2 separate regions of the Homo sapiens genome follow, and region 1 is linked to region 2. The links come from fine-mapping of genetic effects on gene expression. A gene starts in region 2. The other region holds a variant in brackets. All regions are shown on one strand. Distances are between the middles of the regions.

Region 1 (10,256 bases), 84 kb before region 2:
AAACTGGTGGGCCTCAGAGAGACCATACCGAGGGGCATATGCTCAAATTTTTCAAACTTGGAATAGTAATATTACTGTCAACTGAAGAGGTAATCACTTGTATTGTGGACAGAGCTGGTGATCCATTTACTTCCTACTGCCATTTAAAAACTAATTTGTGTAATTTGAAGTCTCATTTAATCTCCAGCACTTCCTTACCCATTCTTACTCTCAACAGATGATGCTGGCTAGACATGGTGGCTCACACCTGTAATCCCAGCACTGTGGGAGGCTGAGGCAGGTGGATGGCTTTAGCTCAGGAATTTGAGACTAGCCTGGGCAACATGGTGAAACTCCATCTCTATAGAAAATACAAAAATTACCTGGGCATGGTAGCACACTCCTGTATTCCCAGTTTCTCAGGGGTCTGAGGTGAGAGGATGGCTTTAGCCCCGGGAGGTAGAGGTGGCAGTGAGCTGTAATCGCCCCACTGCACTCCAGCCTGGGCAACAGAATAAAACGCTGTCTCAGAAAAAAAAAAAAAAAAAAAAAAAGATGACACTGCTTCTTCATTTTACAATAGATGTAAGAATTACAATAGATGTAAGAAGTACAATAGAAAATAGAAGTGAATAAAATAAAGTGCCCACAGGCTCCCATCATGGTATTCAAAGAGCTGCAAGTACCAGAGCCCAACCACTCTGCCCTCGCTGCTGCTATCATGGATGAAGTCATTGTGTCTAAGCTAAAGACAATGTCTCTTCTTGTTCACTGGATTCCTTCTTCTCTTACCAACTCTAAGATGTTGCCTTCTTATCTATTCCACCAGCTGTTCTCTTCCCTCTCAACTGGCTCATTTCCGTTAGCATAAAAATGTGCTGGTAATAATTTGCCAAATTCTCATTAGAAAATTAAAAATTTGAAAAATGGCACCAGTGTAATCAGTTTCAAACTATGTTTCCAAATGGAATAGATTACATAATATCAAGCAGCCACTATGAGTCATTGTTATTTTTCAAAATCAGATGATCAAATGGTAAATATTTAGTTTTTAAACTTCTAGCTTAATTTATAAAGTGTCAAATTTCAGTTTGATATTCTTAGTGAATTGATTTAAAAACTTTTGAATTGATAAAACGTTTTGACTAATTATAGATGTGGCTTCAATAAAAAGTTTTATGTTTTATTCTAGATATGAAGATTTTCTATGCAATAGTTACTGAGATGTCATAATATTTAAAATTTGTTTAGAGAACTCTACAGAACATTTAACATGTTCAGGAAAAATAGCAACTTGTAAACTGAGGGGTGAATACACAATAGATATGTTTATACAATATAGAGACACACAGTGCTGGTATGTACCTTGTGGCTTTTTCAGATACATGTCATCCCATAAATACTCTGTTTGTCAGAGATCCCAACTCGTCTCTCGAGTGTCACTGAGTAATAGTCAAAAAGAATAAGCTGGTATTTTTATAATCTTATGGATGTCATTGCACAGCAAATAAATAGACTGTCATTATCTTTTGTGGGTTTATGTGTTTGTCAGCTTGTTTAACATTTCCAGTTTATTTGCACAAGCTTCAAACCAATAAGTCAACAACTTGAAAATCAGAATGCACTGAATATTTTGCCAATAGTTAACAGTTCCTTAGTTGGTTCCTAGTTTCTTCATTAATGGAGCTATTCTAGAAAATACACACATACATGTGTGCATGTGCACACACACACACACACACACACATATACACTATGACACCTGTTATGTTGATAGGAGTGGGCTGCCCCCAAAAGATGTACTGAACAAAGCACAGAAATTGCCATCCAAATCCTTGGCCTCCTGCCGCAGGTTAGTTCCTGACTTACTGTGCTGCCTTTCCAGCACAAAGTGAAGTGGGGTTTTGCCACTTGGTCTGTAGAGTCAGTCATCCAAGAGGATTGTCAATCCAGGCCAAAACACACCTCCATTAGGCATCTCTGAGGGGCCTTGGAGTAGGGGGAGTCCCGCCAGCTTTCTTGAACAGTGAGTCCCAGGGCTAACCTCACATTATGTCACATGTAGCCTTCAAGCGTGTTTGCTAAGGAGTCAGCGGGAAGAGAGGTCCTCACCCTATTGCATTACACTTCCTCTGGTAAATGGGTGTAATAATAAGAGAGAGAGGAAAAAAAAAACCTTCATATGATCCCATTCCCCCTCCCTGTTCCCTGTCTGCATTGATTTGTTGCTTTAGTTGACACTAAAATATCTTCTTGGCAACTGACTATACAGCTACAGACAAAGGGATTTGAGTTGAGGCTAATATGTCAGCAGTCACCATTTATTTATTTAATAATGAAGGATAACATTTGAATGCTCTAACAATAAAAAAGTATACCAGTAATTTTCAAATCCTCTGGGTAGAGGAAGTGTGGAAATGTGGGTAGAGGCTTCCTGTCTTCTTTTGCAACTGATGCCCCATTTGTATCTGTTTTACATATTGATGTTCAGTAATGGAGGATTCAAAAACCAGGTCTATTTTCAATCCAGGCTTCCTGTTGCTATCTATACCCACTAATCTTAGGTCAGAGTGAAGCATTTTTTCTAGATGACTAAGAGTTGACATTTCCCCTTAAACAGTACATTTATATTAAGGCTCATCTAGAAAACAGTTCAAACAGAAAATAAATAGTACATTAAAAAGAATGTATAAAAACCAAGGAGGAATCAAAACAAAAAGACCGCTGACTAACAATTCTTTCTTGCTCTCTCATAAAGTCCATATTTTATATTCCATGCCATTCCAAAGTCCTGAAATAACTCCATCCTTCTGTGAGATCACCTTGTTTGTCTTGTTCAAAATTATTTTTAAATTTTATTCTCTATGTTGTAATATGATACAATTATAGTATCTCTCTTTTCCCCTATTAAAAATATACATCAGAGTGAACTGGAATCTAATATTTTTCCTTCTGAGTTACTTCTAACTCTGGGAGTAGTATAAGGATGAGGGAAGTTACTCAGTAAATATCAGTTGAAACATTACTACCATTTATTCAAGTAGAATAAAATATATTAAAAATAAACAAAAAACCCTCATTATATGTGCAGACAACAAGTAGTTAATGAGCATATGGTGATTTATAACACTTTGCATAAATAATGTATGCTTAAGATGCCAAGTTGAAATTCAGGCATCAAGAGAACAGACCTTTATTACTTTTTATCAACTTCATTTTATGATAATATTTTTCAAAAATTAGTACTAAAGGGCATAGAGAATGCTCCAGACTTAAATGTGTGAAGATAGTTATTCCAAAATTCTGCAAAACCAACTGCCTAGACCAATGACCATACGTCCTAGTATACTCCAACTGCTTGGAAGGGCAAAGGGTGCCTCCTTAAGCACAGAGAGACAAAGGCCAGGACATTCCTTTTGAAATGAATGGCCAAGCTGGACTATGTTCTGTCATGGCCATGGATACAGAGCTCATCCAACTCATGGCTGGAATTTGACGAATAATAGGTGACAGTGCATAAGGTTGAATGTATCCCATCTTATTCTACTATTAGAATTGGCACTTTACCATTGGGAAATAATTAGGAGCCAGGTAGAATGTGAAAACCCGAGGACAAGAGTATTCCAAGGAAGTAAACAAATGCTAAGTTGAAGCCCCAGAGTAATAGTACTAAAGGTGCCATTTTCACTCATAACATTATTATTCAGATCAGCAGCATGCTTCATAAGAATTGAGTTATTTAATGCACTAATATGAATGGATTATAAAATACTTTGGCTAGTAAAGGAAGCAGTCAGGATGCATTTCAAAATCATGAGAAAGAAGGAGGAGAGGTGAATATTTTACTCAAAAGGAGTTGCCCAATGTGAAAGAAAACACGAACTTTTAAAACTCTTTTACGGCTCATTTATCCTACCATCTACAACACAACTATGCGAGAATGTCCTTAAGAAACCAAGAAAGGAAAGTGCAGCACTTAGGGTATAGTACTAGTAGGGGTATTAATACCATTAGGCCCAAAGTGGGAAGAGGAGGGGATTCCTGGAACCAGGAATATAGGTCTGTGTTGAGGAATGTCTGCCAAGAGCTGTGGTCTTTAGCAGAGGGAGGCAACAATCTATAGTGATCTCCCAGAAGGGGTAGTGAGGTTATGAATATCTTAATCCAACTGTCCTCTTGTCTCTTGATCATCTTCTGATGCTTCCCATTGGTTGAACCCAACTGGCAGCTACGAGGATGGAAGAATCCATGGATGTAGTCAAGATCATTCAGCTTCCTGGGCTCCAATCACAGTTAAAGAGTGGAGAATAAAATACATCCAGTGCCCCTACCTTTTCAAAAGTCTTTCATATTTTTTCTGTATTTTGATCTTTCTACATTGTTTATAGTTCCATGAACTCACTGTTCATGAGGGAGAAATAAACAGAAAGGGAGTTCAGGTAGAGAATCCATTGAATATGAAGAGGAGACATGCAAGGTTTGTCAACAGAAATAAAATAAACTATGTTATTAAGTTTAGAAGATAATCTACAATTTAGTAAGATCTTAGAGAAAGACAGGTAATATGGAGGAAGAAATCGACAGAATCATGAAATAACTTACTTTCTTTTGATCCTAAAAATGAGATGAGGATAACATGTGGAGAGAATGGTGAAAGTTTGAGATTTCACACAAAGCTAAACACATGTGTGTACCTACTTTATTTGCTCAGACAACAGACCACCAACTTTTTAAAATAATGGCATTGTGGAGGGGAAAAATACACACATATATAAATGTATAGGTATAGGTATATGCATATGTATATAATGCATATGTATGTGTATAAAGAATGAGGAGAGAAGAATCTAGATGGCCTTGGATCATTTCCTCTTCCCTTTTGGTAGCTTATCAAGGTGTCAGCTCACTCTTACCTCAAAGGAAGAACACAAAGTTCTGGACTGATATAAGCATCTGAGCCCTGGAGGCTCTTCTCATAATAAACAGGCCATTCCTCTACCTAGATTCATAGTCCACCAGTCCAGCTCTGGCCCAAGATCTCCTCTCACCATGGTAAGAGGATGGATAGGAAAATGTCCTAATGCATGTGCCAGTCAGAGGCAGTGCTGTGCTGCTTGGATTAGTCTTCTTGCCTCCATGGTTAGTGTTGCTGGACCTTCTCTGAGGACAAGTGGGGTACAACTAGGAGCCAACAGATACTGCCTTTCTGATGCTGCATTGCCTTCTCCTGTTGTGCTTTGTCCGTCTGAAATATATTTGTTTTTTTTTTTCATTAAATTTTAAGGCATAGGATGCCTGCTCTGCATAAGAAATTTTTGGTTTGCATGTCTGTTTCAGCCACTGTCTATGAGCTC[T/A]CGGAGGAAAAAGTCACATCCATCTTTTTCATCTTCACTGCCTGTCAGTAGAATGCACGTAACAGGCATTCAGTGAATGTTTGTTGAATGAGTAATTTGGCATGTGGCATAACTTAATGTCCCATGGCTGTGAAATTTTACTAACTATGGGTTTCTAAGGATAGACAAAATAAATTAAAGTACTCATATGACTTAAGATATTTGTGATTTTGGAAAATCATAGAAAACATAGACCAGAAAAATCTATCTATACACTTAATAGCGTTTTGGTAATTTATAGAGGATCAGGACTCTACTGAGGTCTCTGAAGGGTCCATTTGTCACTACCAGAAATTTACAGTTATTAATATTCACAAGTAACATAGGGGTAGTGGGGCACTTAGATGCTCAGTCTCTAAACAGTCAGACTGTATATTAATTTTACTGATGTGAAACAATACAAAGTGGAACAAAAAACAGAGCCAGTCTACAAGTCTATCAAAAGATGTCTGACAGTGTGGCGATTCCTCAAAGACCTAAAGACAGAAATACGATTCAACCCAAGAATACCATTACTGGGTATATACCCAAAGGAATACAAATAGTTCTATCATAAAGACACATGCACATTTATGCTCATTACAGCATTATTCACCATAGTAAAGACATGGAATCAACCTAAATGCCCATAATGATAGACTGAATAAAGAAAATGCAGTATATATAAACCATGGAATACTATGCAGCCATAAAAAAGAACGAGATCATGTCCTTTGCATGGACATGAATCCAACATGAAACTAGAGGCCATTATCCTTAGCAAACTAACACAGAAACAGAAAACCAAATACCTTATGTTCTTACTCATAAGTGGGAGCTAAGTGATAGGAACACATGAACACATAGAGGGAGCAACATATACGGGGGCCTATTGGAGGGTTCTGGGTCAGAGGAAGAAGAGGATCAGGAAAAACAACTAATGGGTATTAGGCTTAATACCTGGGTGATGAAATAATCTACAGTGAACCCCCGTGACACAAGTTTATCTATGCAAAAAACCTGCACATGTACCCCTGAACTTAAAAAAAAAAGTTTTAAAAAAGATGTCTGAGAGGCAGTTTCCTAAAGTAGAAACTCAGTCATCATGGGTAGAGAACAGCAGTGTAGAAGTCAGACGACCAGAACTTCATGACTGAAGTACATAAACAATTTGAACAATGCCACTGGTTCTCAATTTCTCATTTGTGAATTGACAGAGCTGGATAATAAGATCTTCGATACGCTTTAAATAAGTCTATAAATCAATAAAGCAATTAGAAGAATAATAGAAGAAGAAAGGAGAAAAATGAGGAAATAAGAGGGAAATTAAAATACTGCTTTTAACAGAATGTTTTGCACTCTGTAGTGAGAGAACATGGCATAGTTATAAATATATTTTATGTCATCATATTAGAAACGCATAATTATTTGTCCTGTTCCAAATGTTGGAAAGGTATTGTGGATATCTTCAAAGCTCTTTTCTCTCTCCACGTATGCACAAGCCCTCGAATCTACTTCTGCCCTTGTCGAAGTGGGACCAATAAGTTGTGTTCTGCTCCCACCCTAAAGATCTGGAATTTCAGTTTAGCATTTGAGGGTCTAGGGCGACAAATCCTGTACATATAACAGGGAAGTAATCTAAACCTGCTTGTGGATAAGAGATGCCCCAAAGATACTATTTTCTCCTCAATCTGAAAACAACTGAAGAAAGAAGAGAGAGAAAAGAGCAGGAAGAAAATATGGGTGCCAGGACCTGGAAAACCTATAGCAGGAGGAAAGGCAAAGAATGCATGTAGATTAAAGGTTGCCATTTCAGTAGAAAAACAGGTCTCTTCTCACTAGTCAATTCACCATACCATACAAGGAAAGTGATCCAGTGCTTACAGTGACGAATGTGGAGGGTGGGAAGGAGCCAATGAAAGAATGAATAAATTCACTGAAATATTGTATTTGTGTAAGTTTCTTCTATCCCAGATCCCAAGTTATTCTTTCCGGATATCATTAGGAAAGGACAGCGAATCATCCCTTTTCATCCTCTTCCCATATGCCAACCCCTCACTCCCTCTTTTCTTATTTGCAATCAGAGAGGGAAGAATGCAGATCTGCCAAGTGCGTTATAAATACTGTGAAACAAAAGGGACGTAAGCTGCAGTTATAGAACCTACAGCTGGTCAGCAAAGCCAGGCTCTCTAGCAAGTCATATTTTATTATTTTCTTCGCCAAGTGTCATTTCTCTAGTGCCTATTATATATCTTACACAAGGTTTCACATCAAATCTACATTCACCCCCACCTTTCTCCAGACTGGGAGGTGCTGTGCTGGTGGTTGCTTTACAACAAATTCTATGTATCTTCAAAATTGACAGGGTTTCTTTGTCATCCATGTGCCTGGCACCTTTTGCCTCATTTCTATTAAAAGAATGAAGCTGAAGTAACAAGAACCATTCGAGCTGGATATTCCACATGGTCTTATGCAAGTAGCTTCACCCAGGGGGCCTCCTCTGTTTGAGAATGAGTCTCAGGGAATGGAGGCCATGTCGGGCTGGCTCACCTATGTATTCCCAGTGCTTTTGGAGACTGAGGCAGGAGGATCACTTGAGGCCAGGAGTATAAGATCAGCCTGGACAACCTAGGCAATATGCAAAAAAATAAAAAAAATTAGCCGGACATGGTGGCATGTGCCTGTAGTTCTAGATACTCCAGAGGCTGAGGCAGGAGGATCACTTGAGCCCAGGCTGCAGTGAGCCATGTTTTTGCCACAGTATTGTAACCTGAGATACAGAGCAAGATTCTCTCTCTCGAAACAACAACAACAACAACAACAACAACAACAACAACAACAACAACAGGTTGGGGGTTCATGCTATTCTGTAAAAGCACTGGACTTGTTCAGTCCTGGTTCAGAATCTTCTACCAATTTGCTACGCTACTTTTTGCAACTTCTTCATCTGTTTTTATTTTCTTTTTCTTTTTTTGTTGTTTTTAGCTTGAGGACTGAAATCCAACTTTATTTATTCATTTACATCGTTCACTGGAATTTTTATTGCAATTTCAATTCCTACAGTGGATGGTTTTGAGATTGGGGACTTTCCACAGAATGCTAAATTCCTTCACAGATGTGGGAAAGCCTCAGGCACCATCCATTTCCTGGCAAATAACCCCCACTCCTCTGAACTGAAGACAGGTATCATGGGAGGTTCCATGGAAGCCTGTCATTGCCTCAACTACCCTGATCCCCACTCCCACCCCCATCCCGCAGGGACAGGAGCATCCTGGAGGGGGATCCATCCCCATTATGATTTGTATCTCTATTGTCCTACAGGGACCTTTTGCCTCCCAGAACCCACACTTGTCCTGATGAGGAACGAGGGCACTTCGTCTTCTTGATGCAAACTCTACATTTAATGAGATGATCTTAATAAAAAGAACAATCACCCCAATAGAAAAATGAGCAAAAATCCCCACAAACAGGAGAGAAAATATTTATGACCAATAAAAAAGAGATGTTTAGTTTAATTAGTAATCAGATTATTAGTCAGAAAAATGCAAGTGAAGACCACCATGAGGTATCATTTTACTCCCACTAGAGAGGCAATAACAACAAAATATTATAATACCAGATGATGGAAAGAATGTGAATAAATGTGATCCTGTCTACATTGCTGGAGAAATTTTCCCCTGTGGAAAACAGTTTGGTCTTATCTCATGAAGGTGAATAGTTATAATTTTGTACCTACTAATTCCTTAGAGCGCAGGCTTATGCTATAGAAAAACCATTATGTTTGAATCTAATAAATAAGTAAGGTGGAGCTTGCAGTGAGCCGAGATCGCGCCACTGCACTCCAGCCTGGGCAACACAGCAAGACTCTGTCTCCAAAAAAAAAAAAAATCAAATACTGTTTTAAAAAGTTGATGTTATTGCTACTTTTTCAAGATAAAGAAATATAAATTATTTGACTCATATAGAGCAAGTATACCTCCAGAGCCAGATGGGAATTCTTTTCAATACAGGATCTTGTTCTATCACCCAGGCTGGAATGCAGTGGCACAATCATAACTTATTTCATCCTTGAACTCCTAGGCTCCAGCAATCCTCCCACCTCAGCCTCCAAAGTAGCTAGGACTGCAAGTGCACACCACCATGCCTGGCTGATTTTTTTTTTTTTTTTTTTAGTTTTGCAGAGACAGGGTCTTGTTATGTTGCCCAATCTGGTCTTGAACTCCTGGCCTCAAGTGATCCTCCCACCTCAGCTTCCCAAAGTACTGGGATTACAGGTGTGAATCATAGTGCCCAGCTGGAGTTTTATATTAAGCACTTGCTGACATTAATAATTATGGAAGAAATATTTCGCCTCTCTGAGTTTCTGTGTCTTCATCTTTTAAAAAATGAAGCTACTTATCTCTAAATTTTGGAGTTTGTAATGAAGATTAAATAATTTATCTGTAGTGTATTAAATATTAGTTTCTGATTCCTTTTCCTTCTATATTACAGGCCTCTTTGCAATGAGCCACTAAGAAAACAAAGGCCATCTATCCAAGGACACCGCCTAGTGTCTTTGTGTGACTAGCACAGATACATATTTGGTTTGCTGTTCTAGATAGGTAATAACATCTTGCTGTTTGTTCTTGATGTCCTTCTATCACGCCCCCTTCATTCCACCTTGATTGCCTTCCATAGCTGCACTACCTTCCCTTCTTGTTCTGAAATGTCTGTGGATCCACTCTGAACTGACTTGATGCTATTTCCCATTCCCAAGGATGCTTCCCTCTCAGATGATCAACAGGAGACTGCTTACTGCCTCACTCTCTGTTCACCAGAGGAGCTGTGGTGGAAGAGAAGACTCATTTCTTTTTTATCAACAGGAGACTGCTTACTGCCTCACTCTCTGTTCACCAGAGGAGCTGT
Region 2 (10,256 bases):
GGGGGGCAGAGAGAGAGGGAGGGCATGGGGGAAGACAGAGAAAAAAAAGAGAGACAGAAGGAATTCCATTACTAATGAAAGAAAATGAGAAAACTGAGTTTTTAGTGTGTACCCTTATCTACCATGAAACATTACCATGGTAACAGCACCAGTTAAGATGATTGTATATTTAGGTCATAGTATAAAAGAAGGAGCTAGAACATGTGAAGAAAAAAAAAGAGAAATAAATAAAGTAAGACAAAGATATATAAAGAGTGGAAAGAGGCAAACCAACTGGAACCTACCTCATTCTTTGCTAATAGCAGTTTACAAAGTAACATTATACTTTTCAAAGCACATGTGGATAATAAATACTAATTAAAAGTAAATGGGGCCATTGAAATTCAGAATCTTAAGTGCCAACAATCTTATAGAAAAAGAGAACTCATTTAGCATGAAAAAATGGAGAGACAACTAGACTGGGATTGGGATGTGTGTGTTCTTATGCAGTTCTTGGTTAGCTGTGTCACCTTGAAAAAGTCTCTTGATCTGCTTCCTATCATGAACTCAGCTGAATGATATCAAAATTATCTTTTATTACTATGCATCAGACAAAAGAACTTCTGTTTAATAATGTCTTAGTATTGCTGAGAGGTGAAAATGGCATCTGCCAAAATTTTGGTGCCCTCGTTTACCTCTGCCAGAGGCAATCACTGACTAAACAAGACAAGCACGTGCCAACTAAGAGCCTACTCAGCACTGCCTCTTCTTTGCTTAAGGTTTGGAGGATCTAACAAAAACATGCAAAGTTGTATTAACAGATGGGGAGAACATCATTGAACTTCTGAATGCCATGGTTTTGTTTTCCCCAAACACAGGGAAAACAAGTGCCACAACTATTTATAGCGAACCGATTGACACACTATAAGAACTAAGACAGTGGAGTCCAACAAGCTTGTGTTTGAATCCAGGGGCTGCAACTTACTAGCTGTATGATCTCGGGTCATTACCAGACCCCTCTGAATGCTGATTTCTTCCTGTAGAAAATAACATCTACTACATAGGATTGTTGCAAAGATAAAATGAGAAAATTGATTGCTGTATTAACTCATTCAAAAGAGATTTAATATGTTTCTTAGGTATGCCTGGCTGTATTTTAAGCAGTGAGGCTAAAGCAACTGACAAAACAGAAAATATCATATGGGAAGATGCTTAGAATAATGCCAAGGACTTAGAATACACACAGCAAAAATACCTGCCTAAGGAAAGGTGACTTGCATCTCTTTCCCCACATACCACCTCCACCACATAGGCCAGGTGAGCTGTGGGATATGCAATCAGTATACTTATGCCATTTATCTTAAATGAGAGAAGTCCTGATGCCTGCTCAATGAACCAAAGGTGGACAGAGTGGGTACAGGAAGCAAAAGCCAGTTGTTAGTAGTCACAAGGTGGACATTGGTGGCTTTCGATACATAGGAGTCTCTTGGGAACTATGCCACGGAGAGTCCATGTCATAAAATCTCAAGCAAGTCAAATATAAGTTTAAATAAAGAAAACCAATTCTTCAAGAGAACTGTGTGGCAAAATGTTTCTGTCAGTCTCTGTCCTATTGAGTAAAGTGGGAAAAGTTTAAGACAGGATTGAGAATGGTGTCTGGGTGATCTTGTGAAGATAATAGAAAGGGTTCGCTCACATGCATATTCTAAACAAAGGCTGACATCAGTGATGGAGGTTGAATCCAGCACGATTATTGATATACCTACAGATTCTTGTCCTCATTTTTCTCTCTCCCATTCCGTCTTCATTTCCCTTTTGTTCTAATTTCTTCTCTTCTCCCTCTTTTGTACTTGTTTTAACTTTACTCATTGTTGTGGGTCAGAGAGACATAGGACTCCTAATTAGCCAGCCTAACTTCCATTGAAGACAGTGTCATTCATGCTTTTTGTGCCTTCCCTACCTGCCAGCAGTCTGGGACTGTTTTCTTTGGATCTCTGAAACCACCCATTCCTATTGGCCCTGGGGAATGGCTGCTCTGGAATTGGAATTGGAAAATTGTCCAGTAAAGACACATCTGGATGCTTGACTATCTGGACTTTCTGGGCAATGAAGGCGATAGGGTCAAATTTAGAGCAATATGTGTTTTTGTTTGTTTGTTTTTTAACATGAAGACAACAGTCTCAGCCTCCCAAAATTGAAGGACCATGGGAACTCACTCCAAAGGGACTTTTACCAGTATTTCACCTGCTAGTTCTTTCCACATCTGACTCTGAAGTTAGTTGAGAGCTGAAAACATGCTCTTTGGGTTCCCTTTTACTGGAACTATGACAGTATTCAAATCCACCTATTTGCTCACTCCAATTTGCCTCCAGGCACCCTCAAGCACCCTTCTACAAACAAACATGCCTCTTTATTTTATAGGAAAATGAAGCATCTTTCAGACAGTCTAGCCCTGGGAATTTGGAGTCCCAAAACTTTCCCCCATTCCCACCCCACCTCATTCACAGAGCTTTATTTTAAAATGGTAAACAGATTTGGCTGGAGTTCTCACCTCTTTTTAGGGTCAGGTTAAATTTTTTAAGTTTTAATTGGCATTATTGTCTAGCCCAGGAAAGCAAATAGAGTCAATAGGAAGTTGCTTATCCATTGTATTGCTGCAACTGGAACACATTTTGATAATAGTAGTAACAATAATAATTCACCTGGCATTAATTTGTTACTTCTGAGTCCTCAGCTGCCAAGCCTGCAAAGCTGGGACATTGTTGGCACAAAATTCTTCCATTCGTTTGACAAGTCTCAAAAGTCCACTTTCTGAACTGCAGCCGAATACAGTTCCCAGCTTAAAATTGTCTCTTGGCCAAGTCAATTGTTCTTACTCCTGTGATCATCAGTGCCTTTATTATTAGCTCCCCAACAATGGCACAGGTATGCCTGTTTGTGGCTTCTGTTTAAAAATACCATCATCTCTTTTTTTCTTATCAATGAAAATGCATATATTTCCTATCATATGGTTGCGCATATTTACCGATTGCTCACAAAGTGCAATGCGCGGCCTTTGCCGCACAATCCCGAGTTCCTTACTCTGGAGTTTATTAAAAGCTTCATTTTGAGAGCCCTCTCATTGGGAGACGCCAGGATTGCCAGAAGCGAACAGAAGCGCTGGCGCATCCCAGCACCAGGCATCGAACTTCCCTGGGCAGCATGGAGAAAAGCTGCCGCCCGCGGGTGGGCTCCTGGCGGGGACGCCCAGCGGCGGGGCGGGGCGAGACGCGGGCGGCCTGCAGCGCTGCAGCCGCAGGAGCCCTCAGGGCTCCGCACAGCCCGGCCCGTTTTCCCCAGAGACTCCCTCCCCTCATGCCTAACCCCAATTCCAGTTTTCCTCAGGCCTTTCGGGTTGCCCCAGGGTTTCTCTCTGGAGTCTAGGCTGACTTCCCCTCTCCACCCGCAGAGCCCTGCGTGGGCCATGGCCATGACCCTGGCGGTGGCTGCAGGCGTCCCGGGCTGTGGAGCAGGGGCTGCGCGCCGGACCGCTGGAGGGTGTGTGGCACAGCGTGGGGACTGGTCGCTGTGTGCTTGTGTCGCTGGCTGCGTGTACTAGGGGATGGGCAAATCACACGGCTGCCGCATACCCACTGCCACCCAGCGCTAAGAAAAGAGCAGGAAAAGCAAAACAAACAAAAAAGAAAAGAAGACAGGGAAATAGAAAGTCGATGTGGGGGATTCCGGAGCTTGAGGAGTGGGAGGCGCCGCGCTCTTCTTGGCTCGCGGCGCCTGGGCTGGCAGACTTGGAGCCCTGGGTGGCCGCAGTCACAGACGTGCTGTGGCGGTGAACTGACTTAAAGACGCGGGAGGGCGGCCTGGGTGAAATGTCCACCGACAGTTCTGCTGGCTTTACGCGTTTACCTCCAATTCTCTGTTCTCCTCCAGCCTCTCTGCCCCTGGCGAACCTCCCTGCTGGTATTTCCGTACATGCAAGAGCCTTGGCATCATCGCCAGGGACTGGCGGGTCGGTGGACTCAGCCTGGGACAATTCTGTATCTCAGGGCAGCCTCGAGGACGGCAATGGGCAGGAAGATAGAGAAAGGGATGCGGATGCTGGAGGCGGACGGAGGCAAAGGGTGTGCCGCCGTGTGTGTCAATAATTCTGGGGAATTTTCACCTCTCCCAGATGAGTCTCTACTTACCCCGTGAGGGGCCCCAGGGGCGCCGGGCAGCGCGCACAGGTGGAATTTCTGCGCGTCTACCGGCACCAGGCATGGACCGCACCTGTCCGTGTCCGAGAGCTACAAGTTAGCGGCGATTGCCTGGGACCTCAGGTGCGGACTCCAAGGGACATTGCGGGCGGGGAGGGGTGCAGCGGTCCCCAGTCTACGACCCCGGGGACTGCCCGGGCGGTTCAGGACCCATTGTGAGTTAGGTGGCGAAGCCCAGGCACTGTCTGGTACCTCATGAGCTTCGGGCTGAGACCTTGTCCCCCAGCCACGGCGGACAGTCCAGCTCCTGCGCGGGGCTCAAATAGGATGGGATTGCAGAATGCTTCCCTCTCCTTTGTCTTGGGACCCTTTCCCCCATTCTAATTGCTTCTCCTCCTTGGCCATGACCTGGAGACCGCAATGGGAAACCTCTCCAGCGCCCAAGGGCTGCTCCGAAAGCGGAGCCGGGGGACAGCTCGGAGCCCGAGCGAGCCGGGCCTCCATCCCACACGCACAGAAGACGCGGTCAGACCCCAGCAGGAAGGAACCCGAGGGGCGGGAGGGACGAAGCTCTCCTTGTCTTGTCCATGGCTGCATCTGGAGTGGGTGGCGGGAGGGGGGTCAGCAACAGTAGAGGGAATGGGGGGCTGGAATAGGGAGCGACGCCGGGACAGCGCAGCTCCCAGGCTGCTTTCGCCACATTCGGCTGGACTCAGTGACCGTCGGAATCGTAGGGGTACCTCGCCTCGCGCTGTGCCTCGTTTGCCCCTTCCTTTCAGACCCGCCATCACTGCTCGCAACCCTCCAAGCCCCAGGATCCAAAGTTTCCGTTTGAGAATCTGCACGTGGGGAGGACCTCCCTCCAATTCCCCCAAGCCCCGACCCCTGAGCCTCCGGCTTGGGGGGATATGAAGGGAGAGACCCCCTGGTGCCAGGGCCCTTGGAGTGGGTAAGCGGAGAGCTGCACAGCGCGGGGCCCTTACCTGTCGCTGGTTTCGCTCCAGTTGCCTCCCCGGCTGCGAGGTGGTGGAGGCTTGAAGGAGCGAGGAGTCCTTTGTGGGTTCAGGGCCGATCCGCTCGGGCTGGAGCTGCGCACCGCTTAGAGTCCGAGGCCAGCTGCCGGTTCTCTTTCTCCCTTGATCTTGCAAAAGAAAAGGAAAAGATTAGTTGATGCCGAGACACTGTAGGGGTGGGGCGGGAGAGGCGGGAGAGGCGGGAGAGAACCGACCCCAAGGCTCTGGCGAGAGCTGCGGGGCTGGCGCGCGCGCAGGCAGAGTCACGCACCCCACACTCGTCTCAGCCACTTGGCTAGTCTGTGACCTGTTCGTGGTTTAGACTGGAGTTAAATTGACGCTGCCCCCGCCCTCCACGCCAAACCACTAAAGGAGAAGCAAACAAGACTTTCAAACCTGGCTTTCACGAAGAGCCTGGAGACCAAAATAGAATGGAGACCTGGATGCCTCGGCGAGCTGGGCTGGATTCATTTCTTCACCAAAGTGCTTGGGGAAGTAGGAATTAGTTTTGGGAGGCAACACCTATTCGGGTACCTCGGCGATTTCCTGGTGAAATCTGCGATTTCCAGGCTCTGGCCAACCCGCAGCCTGGAGTGTGTGAGTGTGTGTGTGTCTGTGTGTGTGTGTGTGTGTGTGTGTGTGCCCGCGCGCGCTCCCTAGGTCTTTGCGCCCTGGCGCCTTTAGTACAGCAGGAGAGCGTGTCTGTATTCGTGCGTGTGTGTTCGATTAGCTGCAATGGGCGGACAATTTCTGGAGAGAACATTTACAATTTTCTTTCAGTATGACAGGATTAGTTGCTGTTGAAGGCGCTCCTCCAATGAAATCTTCTGTGCTCTCTGATTTGGCGGTTCTTCTGAGCAAATATGACAGCCGTTTCTCCAGGCTCTTTTTCGCTTCTCTCCATTTCCATCCCCAGAGCCCAGCTCTCCATCTGCAATTTCTACATCAGAACCACCCCCAACCCCGAGTCCCTTCCCTGCAAGTGTGTGAGTGCTACAAAGGTGACATGGCATATTGGGAAGAACGCAGTATTGCTTTTTGTTTGTCGGAGATACTTAAGCCCAGTTTTTCCAGGTGGGAAAATGTTAGACTAAATCCACTATGCTTTGTAAATATATAATTGTGCTGAACTATTCACAGATTGTTTATTTCTTTGGAGCTTTGACAAATGTATCCGAAGGAGAAGTAATTTTTTTCTCTTACTTTAAATATGAGCCAGTGACCATGTTTTCTTCAGCTAATGGGCAGTAGACTACAGAATATATCTATATCTATATCTGTATCTATATCTATATTCAGAATATGTGTATATCCAGAATATATATATCTAGAATATATATATATATGTCCAGGATATATATATCCAGAATATATAGATATATATATCCAGAATATATATATATATATCCAGAATATATATATATATATCCAGAATATATATATATATCCAGAATATATATATATCCAGAATATATATATATATATATGTCCAGGATATATATATCCAGAATATATATATATATATATATATATATATATATATGTCCAGGATATATATATCCAGAATATATATATATATATCCAGAATATATATATATATATATGTCCAGGATATATATATCCAGAATATATATATATATGTCCAGGATATATATATCCAGAATATATATATGTCCAGAATATATATATATCCAGAAAATATATATATATCCAGAAAATATATATATATATCTCAAAAATATATATATATATATCTCTCTCAAAAAAAAAAATATATATATATATATATATCTCCAGAATATATATATGTTTGATGCTTCAGGGAATTTGTGATCTCCATGAAAAAAGATTTAGGATGCAAACTTTCTGTGTTCAGACCTGCCTTTGATGTTTATTTCTTTATTTTAATGAGAAATTTCTGCCAATAATTGTATCTATTATTTTTAGATACTAACCTCATTTGATAAAAGTACAATGATAGGATTCTAAAGTGTAGCTTAGGCCAAAACTTGCTTTTGTAAAAGCATATGTGTATGTGAATATAACATCAATATATTATATATTACATAGGCTTTATTTTCTCTCATCCAACTTCAATCAAATAAAGAGCAAGAAGTGGAAACCTTAAATTGAATAGCCCAGAATTGGACACATCACTTTTTGGGTCACAGGGATAGACAAAGAGCAAGTTAAAGATACATTGATATAATATAATATAGTCAATTAAATTCAGTTCAGTTCTTGACGTCCAGGGTTTTGCTAGGTATTAAAGGCCATCCACAAGAGCAAAAACCACTGTCCCTGTGTTTTTATAAGCTTCTATTCCTATTGACAAGAAAAGACACTTCATTTGAAACATCTATGTAACAGTTGACAATCCAATGATTAATTTTATAGCAATGTAAATTTATTGATAAATGGAAATGCTGTAGCTGAAAGTTTCTGCCCTTTTTGTTAACTCATAGCTATCACCAAGCAGGACTTGACACAAAGTTGATTTTGCTTGATTGAAGTCATCCTAAAATGCAGCATTACAATACTGTGTCTCTGCCTTCAACCTCCATACTTACATCCCACCATCACTGGGTGATTATAAGATACCTGTGAGAAAATCAAAACAGCCCTGCTAAGTCTTGTTCTCAGCCTCTCCCAGCATTTGTTCCACTACATTAAATATCTGATTTTGTCATCTCTCCTCTCTTAGACACTCTTTTCAGAATGAATTCACATTTTCCTTTTTTACTCCATTATTTCTGTCTACTGAGCCTCCATAAACCCATGAAGCTGCTTGAGTCTTTTGGAACACACACACAGACACACACCCATCAAAGCAAAAAAGTGAGGAGAAATAGATCCCTGGCCAGCAATAGACAGGAAAACCCAGTGATTTGTTACTTTTTTGTTCCTTTACATCATTAAGAACACTAAGCCCCCTTTTACTAATAAAGCTGCACATTCCAAAATGAGCAACCAAATAAATAACCAATGAAGGCAAACGAATATTTTTCTTAAACCTCAATAAAACAGAGTCTATGTGTGACTGAAGTGCTATGTTTAATAGAAGTCAGTATACTTAAGGCCTTTTGGAGAGGAGTTGCACAGGGAAGCATCATTTTTAGCCAACGGTCATCAATTATGTCCATTTTCTTTTTCTAGGTCATCACTTAGAACACATCTTTATATAGACTTGTAACTCTGCCATTCACTGTGATTTTAGGGAAGTTGTTTAACTTTTCTTTGCCTCAGCTTCTTAAACCATAAAATGGGTATAGCATACATGTCGGGGTTGGTAGGAGGGATAATGGAAGTAATTCATGTGAAATTCTTAAAAGAGCATGTGACACATAGCAAATTGCTATAAATATAACATTGTCGGTCAAGACTGAAAAATACAGTTTCTTGGGTCACACCTGTGACCTCTGAAACAGAGTATTAAGGAGTGATTCTTGACAATGCAAACCATAATGCTCATCACCATCATATAATTAACAAGATAAACATAATCCATCAGCATTCTGACCCCAGGGAACTTAATTCTTTTCTTCTTCTAGTTGCTGTTTCCATACAAGAAATGATCATGTGTATTCTGAGTGTTTTATTTTAATCTCTTAAGCCAGTTCGTTTTCTGAGGAAAAAAAAAAGAATACTCCCCACCCAAGGAATATAGCATTTATATGATTAGTAACTCTTGGTGTGGAACATTTTCGTTTGTCTGTTTTTCGTGAGATGGAGTCTCACTCCGTCGCCCAGGCTGGAGTGCAGTAGCATGATCTTGGGCTCACTGCAACCTCTGACTCCCAGGTTCAAGCAGTTCTACTGCCTCAGCCTCCCAAGTAGCTGGGATTACAGGCACCTGCCACTGCGCCCAGCTATTTTTGTATTTTTTGTAGATACGGCGTTTCACCGTGTTGGCCAGGCTGGTCTCGAATTCCTGACCTCAAGTGATCAGACTGCCTCGGCCTCCGAAAGTGCTGGGATTACAGGCGTGAGCCACCGTGCCGGCTGGTGTGGAACATTTTCAAAACTGCTTTTTAAATACTTTGTAAAATGCATCTATGAGATTTTTTTTTTAATCTACATTCCTCTTTTCCACCTCAAGGAACTCTAATAAATTAGTAATTTCTACTTATTAAGCCAAACTTCATTACATATAACCTTCAGACACACACTGAAGAGCTCTCAATGCCTGTGAAGGGTGACTTTGAATCTTTGACAAAGCTTTCGTTTGAATAAGATTATAAATAAGGTCACCACTAACATGAGAAGAAGGGGAAGCACAGGTCTCATTCCTGGGAGTGTGGCGCATATTTAACATGCCACATTGATTTCACTGCAGCAATAATTAGGCTTCAATAATTAGATGCACAAATCAGCACTCTATCATCATAAGTGGATTAAGAGGGTGACAAGTTCAACTCCAGTGATTTCCCACCAGGTATGGCAGTCATAACATTTTTAAAATTTTTTTTCTATTTTCAAGGAACCAAGAAAATGAAGTTGAGGGCTTTGCCTATATTGGGAAAATGAGCCAAGAGCAGATCTTGCCTTGTCCTTCATCTTCTACTCACACAGACTGTTTAAGAGTTAAATCAGGGAAGCACCGTATTTATCAGCAGGAGCTTTGGAAAAGGTGGGCTGATTTATCTGATGGATGCCAAAGAAACCTTTCTTTTCCTTGACCTCAGTTTGAAATATAACAATCCTGGGTTAAAAGTAGATCTCCGCTAAATGACAATCACTACTTACAATGGGTTCTTCAATTGTCTCTTACTGTTTTGAAATCTTAATAATGGTTTCATAATACACACATTATTCTTCCTAGAATTATTTATTTTTTCCTACAGACCTTCCCAGAGAGTAATTTAAAAGCTTCTATTCTTTAGCTTAAAAAGATGATCTGTTTTTATTCTAGAAAATCCTGAGCTTTTCTTTTTCAGACCCTGCAATTGAAGTTTTCATATACAAATAGGACTGATTCTGAGGGATAATGTTTAGTGACAGTGTGACAAACAATGCTTTGTTATTTTTTTTCTTTTCCACGAAGTTTGGCATCACAGATGTTTTCAACTCT

What was found.
Region 1: its variant is fine-mapped to the expression of CHRM2 in fibroblasts (GTEx, PIP above 0.99).

Annotation. Positions count from the first base shown.
Region 1 is chr7:136,948,726-136,958,981 of GRCh38, reverse strand. The region is part of intron 2 of CHRM2 (cholinergic receptor muscarinic 2); the gene reads right to left. The region is part of intron 2 of LOC349160 (a long non-coding RNA gene); the gene reads left to right. Among named protein-coding and RNA genes, the nearest start is that of MIR490, 51 kb to the right of the region's middle. The variant T/A (reference allele first, on the strand shown) is at 5,334.
Region 2 is chr7:136,864,318-136,874,573 of GRCh38, reverse strand. It overlaps CHRM2 (cholinergic receptor muscarinic 2), which reads right to left and starts at 5,922. Exons shown (of 4, transcript NM_001006630.2): 1 at 5,582-5,922; 2 at 5,156-5,313. RefSeq lists an enhancer at 4,481-5,243.